Regions from separate parts of the Homo sapiens genome. Here region 2 is linked to region 1. Evidence: fine-mapped expression QTL. Tissue or cell type: whole blood. Region 1 holds a variant in brackets; the other region holds the start of a gene. All regions are shown on one strand. Distances are between the middles of the regions.

Region 1 (7,679 bases):
ACTAAAGATACAAAAAAAATTAGCTGGGCATGGTGGTGTATGCCAGTGGTCCCAGCTATTCGGGAGGCTGAGGTGGGAAAATGGCTTGAGCGCAGGAGATTGAGGCTACAGTGAGCTATGGTGGCGCCACTGCTCTCCAGCCTGGGTGACGGAGCAAGACTTTGTCTCTAAAAACAAAAATCTCTTGAACTTTTAGGAATCAAAAGTGACGTGTGCTTGCTAATAATGTATATTAAATTAAAGCCTCTATGTGAATCTTGCTCTTTGAATTTCTGCCGTCTCTGAATAAAAGTGTTTTACTATGATGGAAAAACCAGAGGAGATGTTCTTACGTCCAACTTGGGTCTGTCAGAGCTTTGTGATTATAAACGGCTCTGTGGATCCTGAGCACTGAATCAGGGGCCCCAGCTTGTGGGGTAACTTGAGGGCGATCATCTCATCCAGTTGTTGACTCCGCGGGCAGCCACCTTTCGGGAGGCAGTTCTGCGCCTCACCACAGCTTTGTTAAGGCAGCAATGACCTGTGTCACCTGCCCGTTTCTACAGCACGGTCCTCCCCCACCTTTTCCCCGCTGTGTGGATGTCACTGGCAGTGAGGGGGCAACAGGCACTGTGTCTGGTATCTGCAGGCTCCGTTGCAAATACGGATTAAGGCTCTCTGCGTGGCAGTGCTGTATGTGCTGGGTTACATGTGGCGAACGTTCTCTGCTCATCCCAAAGTGAGGCTGGCTCTGTGAGGGGCAGGCCGAGGCTATGGGGAGTTCGTGTGGCAGGAGGAGCGTGGAGAATTTCTGTTTGTGATTGTCATGGGAGCATCTCTTTCTTGTTTCTTTCCACAGGCACCAGTTTGTAGAAAATAATTTAATACTAAAGATGGGCCCAGTGGATAAGCGGAAGGTGAGTGGTCAGTGGTCCCGCTGCTCCGCACGGACACCTGCATCTTCCCCGACTCCAGCTTAGGGGAGGGCAGCTTGGTGGCGTGGAATCCTTCCATCTCTTGATTTTCATCAGACATCATCTCTAGATTTCATAGCTCGGGAAGGCTTAAGTCCCTTGAGAGAAGCCATGTGGAGCCACACGCGTAGGCGGTTAGGGCAGTGCAGAAGCAACCGCCCACACTCCTGGGAGCCTGGGGCTGCCTGTTTTGAGGTTTCCGTCAAGTTGAAGAGGCCACATGTGATATCTTAGCCAGTGGTCTAATATTTCTTTAGAAGTGTTTCAAAACCATTTAAGGGTTGTTCTTTATTTTTTTCTTTGAGATGGAGTCTTGCTCTGTCCCCCAGGCTAGAGTGCAGTGGCGCGATCTCGGCTCACTGCAAGCTCCGCCTCCCAGGTTCACACCATTCTCCTGCCTCAGCCTCCTGAGTAGCTGGGACCACAGGCGCCCGCCACCATGCCCGGCTAATCTTTTTTTGTATTTTTAGTAGAGACGGGGTTTCACCGTGTTAGCCAGGATGGTCTTGATCTCCTGACCTCGTGATCCACCCGTCTCAGCCTTCCAAAGTGCTGGGATTACAGGCGTGAGCCACGGCGCCCGGCCGGGTTGTTCTTTATTTTATGGATTAAATGGATCCAGCACTTAGCAAGTGGTCTGTATGGAGCCAGGCAAGTGTGTGGATGTGCTCAGGTATTTATTTGGTCATCTTGTACCTTTTTCAAATATAAATCATATTACTTCTACAGTAGAACGTCAGATCAGGAATTTCAGTATGATTAGACAGAACACAAACCAGTAACTGTTAGCTTTAACCCTTGGTTAGAAAATATTCAGCTCCAGGTGCTCACGGGGCCACTTCCAAGCGCAGGCTCCTGGCCTCTGTTCCTGGCCGTATGTCCTCCGCAGGCAAGGATCTCGGTGCAGGTGGGTGGAGGCCGGCTACCGAGAGCAGGCTTCTGTCCCAGGCAGAGCAGAGGGGCCAGGGGAGCCATGGGCCCGATCTGGATGGGCTGTCTGCGCCATCTCAGCAGCAGAGGCCTGTGCTGCATCCCCTGTGACCTTAGAAACTGGGCCTGGTGGGGCAGGAAGTCCCCTGCCCCTGGGTGAGTGCACAGGTGGTGGTGGTGGCCCTGTGTCCTGAGCAGCTCCGAGGGGCCGCCCAGCCCTCTAGGCTCCAGGAGATGCCGTCAGCACTGGCCTCTGAGGCCTGTTGTTTTGTGTTTTGGCGTCAGGGTTTATTTGCAAGACGACGACAGCTGTTGCTCACAGAAGGACCACATTTATATTATGTGGATCCTGTCAACAAAGTTCTGAAAGGTGAAATTCCTTGGTCACAAGAACTTCGACCAGAGGCCAAGAATTTTAAAACTTTCTTTGTCCACACGGTGAGTCTGTTCCCAGGGATTTCTGTGTGCAGGGTAATGGGAGGGCTTTGCACCACGTGGGAAGCAGCCACAGGCCTTGGCCAGAGGGAGCAGCGGGGATCGGGGCAGCTGCCTCGCCCTTTCCGACATCCCAGACGCCCACACTAGTGGCTCAGTCCTGAGGGGGCAGGGGACACCCTGTGCTTGTTTTTCAGTTTGGTGGTGACTGGGGGTGGTGGTCATCAGCCTGTGTAGTTGCTTACTGCTTGTGTGAATAACCGTCACACCCACGTGCTTTCAGGACTCGGAATGGCTGGTCGCAGGCAGCTCACCAGGTTGGGGTGGGGGTTTTGGTGGGACTCCCTGGAGAACACTAAACGGCTTCTGTCTTCGCAGCCTAACAGGACGTATTATCTGATGGACCCCAGCGGGAACGCACACAAGTGGTGCAGGAAGATCCAGGAGGTTTGGAGGCAGCGATACCAGAGCCACCCGGACGCCGCTGTGCAGTGACGTGGCCTGCGGCCGGGCTGCCCTTCGCTGCCAGGACACCTGCCCCAGCGCGGCTTGGCCGCCATCCGGGACGCTTCCAGACCACCTGCCAGCCATCACAAGGGGAACGCAGAGGCGGAAACCTTGCAGCATTTTTATTTAAAAGAAAAGAAGAAAAAAAACACCCAACCACACAAAGAACAAAACCAGTAACAAACACAAAGGAATTCAGGGTCGCTTTGCTTGCTCTCTGTGCTCCGTGGAGGCCTCCGTGTGCCCTCGTTGCCGTGGGGACCCAGCTCCATGCACGTCAACCCAGTCCCGCCCAGACTAGTGGACAGACCTGGTGTCACCAGTTTTTCCTAGCATCAGTCCGAACCATGCGCCCGCCCTGCCCCAACTGTGTGCTGGTCCTGCTGTGGCCGAGGGGACCGGGTGTGTTTGGCTCTTTATGCCCCTCCCGCTGTGGTCCTGGAACTCTTCACCAGGGAGGGAGCCCTGCGGGGGCCGCAGCTTTGTGGAGGGAGCCGCCGTGCTTCTGTCACCTGCTCCCTTTCTTGCGTCTCCCTGTGATGGGCCCTTAGGCCTGGCTGGGCCCATTACATATCCCTGTGGTGGCTCTGGTGGCAGCTTTCTGTGGCCCCTGCTGTGTTGGCAGGCAGGTTTGCGTGGTGAGGAGCGGGAGGGGTTGGAGTGGTGCGGGAGCAGGCTGCCGAGTGGAGGGTGCCATCGAGGGCTCCGGATCCCTTATCCTACTTAGCAGTGTTGGTCTCTGGGGCTGGAAGCCGAGCGCATGCTGGGAGCGGTACTGTCAGAAGTGAGCCCAGTTAGTACCCCGCTGGCTCACTGCACGAGAGAGTCCTGCCCCGAGCCCTAGGTGGGGCCAGGAGGTGCCTTGGAGAAGCCAGCCAGAGCAGAGAGGGCTGCTGACTTCCGTGTGGAGCAGAGAGGCCTGAGGGCCTCCTAAAAGGTTTAAATGTCCACGCCTCTCCAGTTGCTGAAGTAGGGTCTGAGAGAACCCTGGCATCAGCAGACCCAGGGTGCTTCTGTCTCCTGCAGACCACGCCAGGGAGTGCAGACACCACCGTCACACACGCCCCTTTTGTGTTTTGGTTCAAGTTTCTCAGAGCCCCTCAGAGCTTCTACATCTGTGCATCAGAAATCTCACAGCCTTCTCATGCTGCCGGCTCATCTGGGCCCATAGAGTGGGCTTTGCCAGTTGCTGTTGCACAGGAGGCGAGAACAGCACACTTCAACCCCAGCTTGCTGGTCGGCTTTCCTCTAGAGAGAGCCGGTTTTGGGGCCATTTCCCTTTGATGCTTTGGTGGCCTTGCCCCGCTCTGCAGCACAGACAGGCCAGATGCATTTGTCCTTTGCCTAGCTACTCCCCAGGTAGAGAGTGCTCC[T/C]GGTGGCCTGGCAGGTCTGGGCCCTTCTCTCCCTGCCCAGGTTGTCCCTGGAGGGCAGCCCTCACTCCCTTTGGGGGAGAGGCAGACATTGCTGCCCACAGACCTGCCTCTGACTCAACTGTGTCCACCCTCCCTGGTCCCTACCCCCAAGTCACAGGTGACTCAGCAGTGACCCTGTGTGCCAGGCCAGATCCAAACTGAGAGGGAAGGTGTCGTTTTTACACTGCTAATGACGAGAGTGGCTCTTTTTAGCTAGGCGAGTACAGACGGGGCCTGGGAGGGGGCAGAGATGTTCCCCAGGCCCTGCCTGTGGTTCCTGCCTGGGCCTTGGCTGCTGCTGTGTGAGAGCTGCATGTGAGCCTGTGACCGTGAGCTGGGGTGAGCTGGGCCGCACCTACCCTGGGGCCCCAGGGAGCAGGACGCTCCGGGGCCCAGCACGTTGCCCTGGGCCTGTGGCCGGAGTCGGAGTCCTCTCTCCTCCTCCTGGCTTTTGGAAAGGCTTGGCTGTGTTGGGGAGTCTCTCTTAGCCCTTTCAGGAATTTCTGTTCAGGCTTCCTCCTCCTCATCAGCTATTTTACCCATCTCAGAACGTCCTGTGTCTCCATGTAGGAGAGTGGCTCTCTCAGATCTCTCAGGGCGTCTGGTTATAGGGAAACAAGTGGAGCAGGGACGTGGCTTTAATTGGAGCACTCGGCTGGGCTGCTTGGGGAGACTCTTCCGTGCGTTCTTCCTCTGGATAGAACCACCACCTCCTGGGCGTCACTGACAAGCTCCATCTTAACCTCCAAAGCCACAGAACTAGGGGCTCAGAGCCAGAGCTGGCAGCCGCCAGCCAAAATGATGCCATTGCCTGAGCTGACAGCCAAGCCCTTCTGTGGGTCACCTTTCTCCTCACCCAGCCCCTTGCTCTTCCCTTTTGAAAGGCCCGTGTGTTTTCTTTCCTTACCCTGTGCTTGCTCATGTCTACTCCGGTTTTCTCTACCACATCCTTAGAGCCATCACCTGGCACGCAGGCGCCTTACATTCTACGGTAGAACGTGGGGTACTGTGTGTGCACATAGACACACTTACGTGGAATTACAGTTGTGGGTTTATCCAAGATGAGGAAGATTTCACCTGCTGTTTAATAGACTTGGGGCCATGTGCCTCCCCACACATGGGCAAGGACAGGTGGAATGTCGGGACCACACTGTGCGGCTTCTCGGCACAAAGCGGAGGGAGGCTGTGGTCGCTGCCGGCCTAGGTGTCCCAGGTGCCCCGCCTTTCTCTGGGACACAGTTGGGGGCTGGCTTCTGAGGGATTCCTTTCTCCCCTCTTTGTGTGGCCCCAGCCAGGGCGGTGGGCAGTCCTGGTGTAGAGCACAAGCCTCTCCACCCTAGAGAAATGCCTCTGTACCACGGCTACCATGTGGAACCTTAACTTGCAGAAGGCTTGTTAACAATTGTTTTGAGAGAGATGGCTGGTCATGCCACAGCTGCTGGGGACTCCGCCTACTCCAGCCCTCTTGGGACACACTGTGGGATTTGTGGCCCTTCCCCAGAGGAATTGTGGAGACTGTCCCATGGAACAAACCCTCAGGCACCAGCACAGGGCTCTGGGTGACTCAGTAAAACTAACGTTTGTCTCTGACAAGATCAGCTGTAGGCTCACCGGCCAGAGAAGACCACTGTGAGCATTTTGCCGTATATCCTGCCCTGCCATTTGTTCACTTTTTAAACTAAAATAGGAACATCCGACACACACCGTTTGCATCGTCTTCTCCCTTGATATTTTAAGCATTTTCCCATGTCATGAGTTTCTCAGAAACATGTTTTTAACAATTGTACTATTTAGTCATTGTCCATTTACTATAATTTATCTGACCATTTCCCTACTGTAAAATACTTAAGACGGTTTCTGATTTTTCCACTATTTAAATAATGCTGTGATGAATATCTTTAAAATCTTCTGATTTCTTACTTTTTTCCCCCTTAGATGCCTGGAAGTGGTATTTTGAGGTGAAAGAGTTTGTTCATTTTGAAGATATTTCTGTCTCTCTCTCGACCTGATGTGTAGACGCTCACTTCCAGTAGCAGAACCACCTTAGTTGTGTCTTACAGATTCTGAACAAATCGGTTTCTGATAAGCCATGTGTTCCAAAGAATGTCTGAATAAGACCGCTCTTTATTTAAATGCTAAGAGGATGTCACTACTGCAATCCATCTGTGGCCGATTTTTTCCAAGAGCCAATTTCCTTGTTTTGGTTGCAAGAACCTGGCTCTGCCTGCATGTCAGCTCTCTGCCCTCCCTGCTGCCGTGGCTTTCAAGCGCTTGGCAGAATCTTGTACTTCGTGTCCACAATGGTACTGAATTTGCATCTGCACAGTCAGCAGAGATAACAAGTGTTGAACTGACCTTGCCACATGCTTAGTGAGTGATTTGTAATTAAGTTTATAGACTCAGAAGGTATATTAGGACATTTGGAATCAGTAGCAGAGCAAAGCCTCTTTGAAAAAAACCACGTAGCTGATTGGGTTTTACAAGAGTGCATTTGTCTCCCCCTTCCACCCGTGGGGCCCCACCTTCAGGTCTTAGTGGTTCACAAGAGCCCAGCAGCCAGGCTGGCTTTTTCATTGTAGGGCGTGGTTGTCCCAGCTGGTGTAGATTTCAGGCCGCCCCCCCCAACTCCCTGCCCACAGTGTTGCAGATTGCCTGGCTGGCAGCAAGTCCAGACCACCCAAATTTGGTTGGATTCTTCATTTCTCCACTGTAGTTGGGGTCCATTGATTGTGCAGGGGAACGTGCAGGAGGTTTTTCTAGGCACCGTGTTCAGTGCTGCTTCACTCTACCAGAGATTATGGCCAAATTGCACGGAATTTGGTTTCTTGCCCTCTGAAGCCTGAGGGCCCCCCCTTGCCTGGCTGGTTGACAGACCCGGGGTGGTCACTGCTGAGACTTCAGAGATCGCAGCTGCTGTGAGAATACGGTGAAGGTACTTTGTTCTGGAAGATGTTGTCATACACTTTTCCCCAGTTATTTTCAAACTTGACATGAGCCTATGTTGACTCACTGGGTGGGGGTCCCTTCTTACGCAGCACACGTGGCAAGTGCCTGAATCGGGGCTGGAGGCACTTCAGAGCCTCTGAGGGGCCACCACTTCTGGCCCAAAATTGCAGGGTTGTAGATGAGGCTGCCTGTGGAGAACTGGTGTGAGGAGGAAGCTGTTTCCAACAAAGAGCACTTTCATCTGTTGAGATGGCTGTGGTGAGCAACTGAACGAGCCTACGTGTGTACCTGAATTTTCCCCGTAACTCATTTCTTCCATATGAAGAAACACCAAACTATGTACAGAGAACTTTTTACAAAAGGCAGACCTTTTTTAAGCTGTGTAACCCACATAGCCTAACCACCTGGCAGAATGACTACGAATAGGGGTCATTGTGCTGGTAAAAGCCTCTATTACGACTGTAAGTAAGTTGGATGTTGGCAAAATTAAATTGTT
Region 2 (4,000 bases), 79 kb before region 1:
ACTGAAAAGAAAGGCAACATTCTCTTGGGAGAGGAAGGAGGGACAGCTCTGGAGGAGACAGGCCACCCTGGAGCCCAGCCCACCAGCACTGTTGCGGTGGGAGGCTTGGGCCCTCTGGCCAGGCTCCTGTGTGCTTGGAGCCACCCCGTGTGCAGGGGAGACCTCTCTGGGAGGTCAGCTGAGGCCTCGTAGTTGGACTGTTGATGATCCCCGTCGTCTTCTCTGCCCCCATCCTCTTCTTGGCTCACCCTGTCTCCTGTCTGGTAGAGAAGATTCTCCAATCTGTCAAGGGTTCAGGCCTGCTGTGTGGCTGAGGGTGCTGAGAGCTGCCCTTTCTGGCAGAATGTTTGGCCCTCCTAGGTTAATATTTGGGGCTGGGAGCGTTGGGGAGCTTGGCCTGGGCAGTGAGTCAAGGGAGCTCTGGCCTGGGTGACAAGAGTGGCCAGGTCAGCTGCTTCTGACCCTCCGGTCACACCCTGTAGCAGTGGCTTTGCCATCCCCAAGACCTTTGGTGGCTTTTCCAGCATGTTGTCCTGGGCAGTAGCCCCAAGGGTCGACTGACCCTGACCCCACATGGGGGCTGCTGAGGCTGCACTGAGGCTCCCTGGGGTGACAGGTGGGTTCACTGCAGAGCCAGGAGCCCCAGATGGGTCACGCCGCCCCAAGAGCTGCTGCTGGAGGAAGAGCTGGACTCTGAGGGTGGGGGCCTCACGTAGAGGAAGGAGGAGTGGCTGTCCTGGCCTCCTTTTGCTTGCCCGTGGCTGTTCCTCCTGGGTCCTCTTGCCCTGGGCTGGATGCCTTCTTCGGCTCCCCCTCTGCATGTGATAACTTGGGGTGGCCCTTGGAGCTGTGCCAAAGCTACACCTCGGGGTCCTAGTCTCAACTGGCCTGCGTACTGCTGTGGGCTCACCCCGCCTTCCTCCCACAGCCCTGGGCGCTGCCTATGGCACAGCCAAGAGCGGTACCGGCATTGCGGCCATGTCTGTCATGCGGCCGGAGCAGATCATGAAGTCCATCATCCCAGTGGTCATGGCTGGCATCATCGCCATCTACGGCCTGGTGGTGGCAGTCCTCATCGCCAACTCCCTGAATGACGACATCAGCCTCTACAAGTGAGCACTGGGGTCAGGCCCCTGCCCAGGGCTGGAGGACTGCAGGGAGGGGGGCGGTTCACCTGTGGGTGGTGACCCGGACCCTTGTCTCCCCCTGGTTGGCAGGCTGCTGATGTCAGTCCTCTCTTCTCGCCCCCAGGAGCTTCCTCCAGCTGGGCGCCGGCCTGAGCGTGGGCCTGAGCGGCCTGGCAGCCGGCTTTGCCATCGGCATCGTGGGGGACGCTGGCGTGCGGGGCACCGCCCAGCAGCCCCGACTATTCGTGGGCATGATCCTGATTCTCATCTTCGCCGAGGTGCTCGGCCTCTACGGTCTCATCGTCGCCCTCATCCTCTCCACAAAGTAGACCCTCTCCGAGCCCACCAGCCACAGAATATTATGTAAAGACCACCCCTCCTCATTCCAGAACGAACAGCCTGACACATACGCACGGGGCCGCCGCCCCCAGTAGTTGGTCTTGTACATGCGCAGTGTCCTAGTGCCCATCGTCTGTTTCCCCGGCCTTGCCCCCGCCCGCCCCGTGCCGTGGACATCTGGGCCCACTCATCGCCCCTCCAGGCCCCCGGCGCCCCACCCCCTAGAGTGCTCTGTGTATGCGGATGATTTAGAATTGTCATTTCTCTTTACTGGATGTTTATTTATAAAGATCTGGCCTGTTCCTGCGTCTGCGGAGCGGCCCTTGTCTCCCAGCTATCTATAACCTTAGCTAGAGTGTCGCCTTGTGGGTTCCTGTTGCTGAGACTTCCTGGATGGAGCCGCCCTCACCGCCGGGCCCGTGGCCCTGCGCGGAGCTGTGTCCAATAAAGTTCTTGGATGTGACGGGCCTGTGTCTGCTCAGCTTGTTGGGGGCGGGGGCGGGCGGGCGGGCGGGCGGGCGCCGGGCGCTGCCGGTCACGTGGGCTGGCTCGATCACGTGGGCGCGGCGGTCACGTGGCGCGCCGCTTCAGTCAGCTGAAGGTCACGTGGGCGCGGTCTCAGCTCTCGGCTGGGGTTCGTCACTGGGCGCGGGATTTGGCCGCCGCGGGGCTCCGGAGCCGCTCGCTCCCGACACGGCTCACGATGCGCGGCGAGCAGGGCGCGGCGGGGGCCCGCGTGCTCCAGTTCACTAACTGCCGGATCCTGCGCGGAGGGAAACTGCTCAGGTGGGCGCGGGCCGGGGACTGCGGGGCTGGGGACCGGGCGGGGTGCAGGGTGCGGGGCCGGGGACCGGGCGGGGTGCAGGGTGCGGGGCCGGGGACAGGGCGGGGTGCAGGGTGCGGGGCCGGGGACCGGGCGGGGTGCAGGGTGCGGGGCCGGGGACCGGGCGGGGTGCAGGGTGCGGGGCCGAGGTCAGGCCCGCGATGCGAGCGCCCACCCACTGCGTCCCCAGGGAGGATCTGTGGGTGCGCGGAGGCCGCATCTTGGACCCAGAGAAGCTGTTCTTTGAGGAGCGGCGCGTGGCCGACGAGCGGCGGGACTGCGGGGGCCGCATCTTGGCTCCCGGATTCATCGACGTGCAGATCAACGGTGCGGCCCGGGGCCGGCAGGGGAACCCAGGGGAGGAGCTCTGAGCTCCATGCGACACTTCCTTTTCTGTGGCTGCAGGTGGATTTGGTGTTGACTTCTCTCAAGCCACGGAGGACGTGGGTTCGGGGGTTGCCCTCGTGGCCCGGAGGATCCTGTCGCACGGCGTCACCTCCTTCTGCCCCACCCTGGTCACTTCCCCACCGGAGGTTTATCACAAGGTGAGGTGAGGCTCCCTGGCTGAGGTGGAGGGGGCTCCCGGAGCAACCAGCGCCCTCATTTTCAAACTCACGCCCCACCCCCCACCCCCAGCACGTATTCCATGGTCCTGAGTCTGGCCTCCTTTGATGACCGGATCTGGGCCTGGGTCCCGCCCCTGTGCTTCTTTATCAGTTGTCGCTCTGCCTGGCCTCCCTAGACCCTCTGTCCTCCGCAGCTGTCTCCACACTGCTGGCTCAGCACCGTCTGAGCCATAGGCCGTCCCCACCCCCTGCACTGCACTCTGGCTGCCTCCAGGCTTCAGAAACCATCCCCTTAACCAAGGCCGCAGGGGATTCTGTGATTGGCACAGCGATAGTCCCTGGTCAGGCTCTTCCTCCCTAACCTGTCTGATGTGTGACTCAGTGGAACACGCCTTCCAGAAGAGACTCCCCCTGCTCCTGTACTGCTTGCCCCACGCTTCCATTTTCTTTCCTGCCCGGAAGAAATTTGGTTGTCCTTGGTCTTTTTTTATTTTAATTTTTACTTAGGTTCTACAGGGTTAACTTTTTGCTGTATGTTACTACTATTCAGGCTCCTCTTGGCTGTACCTGTGCTACTGTTTTTTACTGAACTATTTGAGAGTAGGTTGTATCCAACATGCTTTTTTTTTTTGTTTAGTTTTTTTTTTTTTTTTTTTTGAGACGGAGTCTCGCTCTGTCGCCCAGGCTGGAGTGCAGTGGCACAATCTTGGCTCACTGCAGGCTCCGCCCCCCAGGGTTCACGCCATTCTCCTGCTTCAGCCTCCCAAGTAGCTGGGACTACAGGTGCCCGCCACCTCGCCCGGCTAATTTTTTGTATTTTTCGTAGAGACGGGGTTTCACCGTGTTAGCCAGGATGGTCTCGATCTCCTGACCTCGTGATCCGCCCGCCTTGGCCTCCCAAAGTGCTGGGATTACAGGCGTGAGCCACCGCGCCCGGCCAGTTTTTGTTATTTTTAAGAGACAGGGTTTCTCTCTGTGGCCCAGGTTGGAGTAGAGTGGTGTGGTCATAGCCCATTGCAGCCTCATTCTTCTCTGCTCAAGCGATCCTCTTGCTTCAGCCTCTTGAGTAGGTAGGACTACAGGTGTGTGCCACCATGCCCAGCCAATTTTAACATTTTTTGTAGAGAAAGTCTCACTGTGTTGCC

What was found. PIP is the estimated chance that this variant, and not a neighbour inherited with it, causes the effect.
Region 2: AMDHD2 starts here. The variant in region 1 is fine-mapped to the expression of AMDHD2 in whole blood (TOPMed, PIP above 0.99).

Annotation. Positions count from the first base shown.
Region 1 is chr16:2,594,955-2,602,633 of GRCh38, forward strand. PDPK1 (3-phosphoinositide dependent protein kinase 1) reads left to right here. Exons shown (of 14, transcript NM_002613.5): 12 at 839-896; 13 at 2,169-2,321; 14 at 2,697-7,679. The coding sequence ends at 2,813. Among named protein-coding and RNA genes, the nearest start is that of FLJ42627, 40 kb to the right of the region's middle. The variant T/C (reference allele first, on the strand shown) is at 4,199.
Region 2 is chr16:2,518,290-2,522,289 of GRCh38, forward strand. AMDHD2 (amidohydrolase domain containing 2) reads left to right here and starts at 2,082. Exons shown (of 11, transcript NM_001330449.2): 1 at 2,082-2,252; 2 at 2,480-2,616; 3 at 2,695-2,834. The coding sequence starts at 2,170. ATP6V0C (ATPase H+ transporting V0 subunit c) reads left to right here. Exons shown (of 3, transcript NM_001694.4): 2 at 929-1,112; 3 at 1,252-1,929. The coding sequence ends at 1,456. RefSeq lists silencers at 1,948-2,057, 2,228-2,297.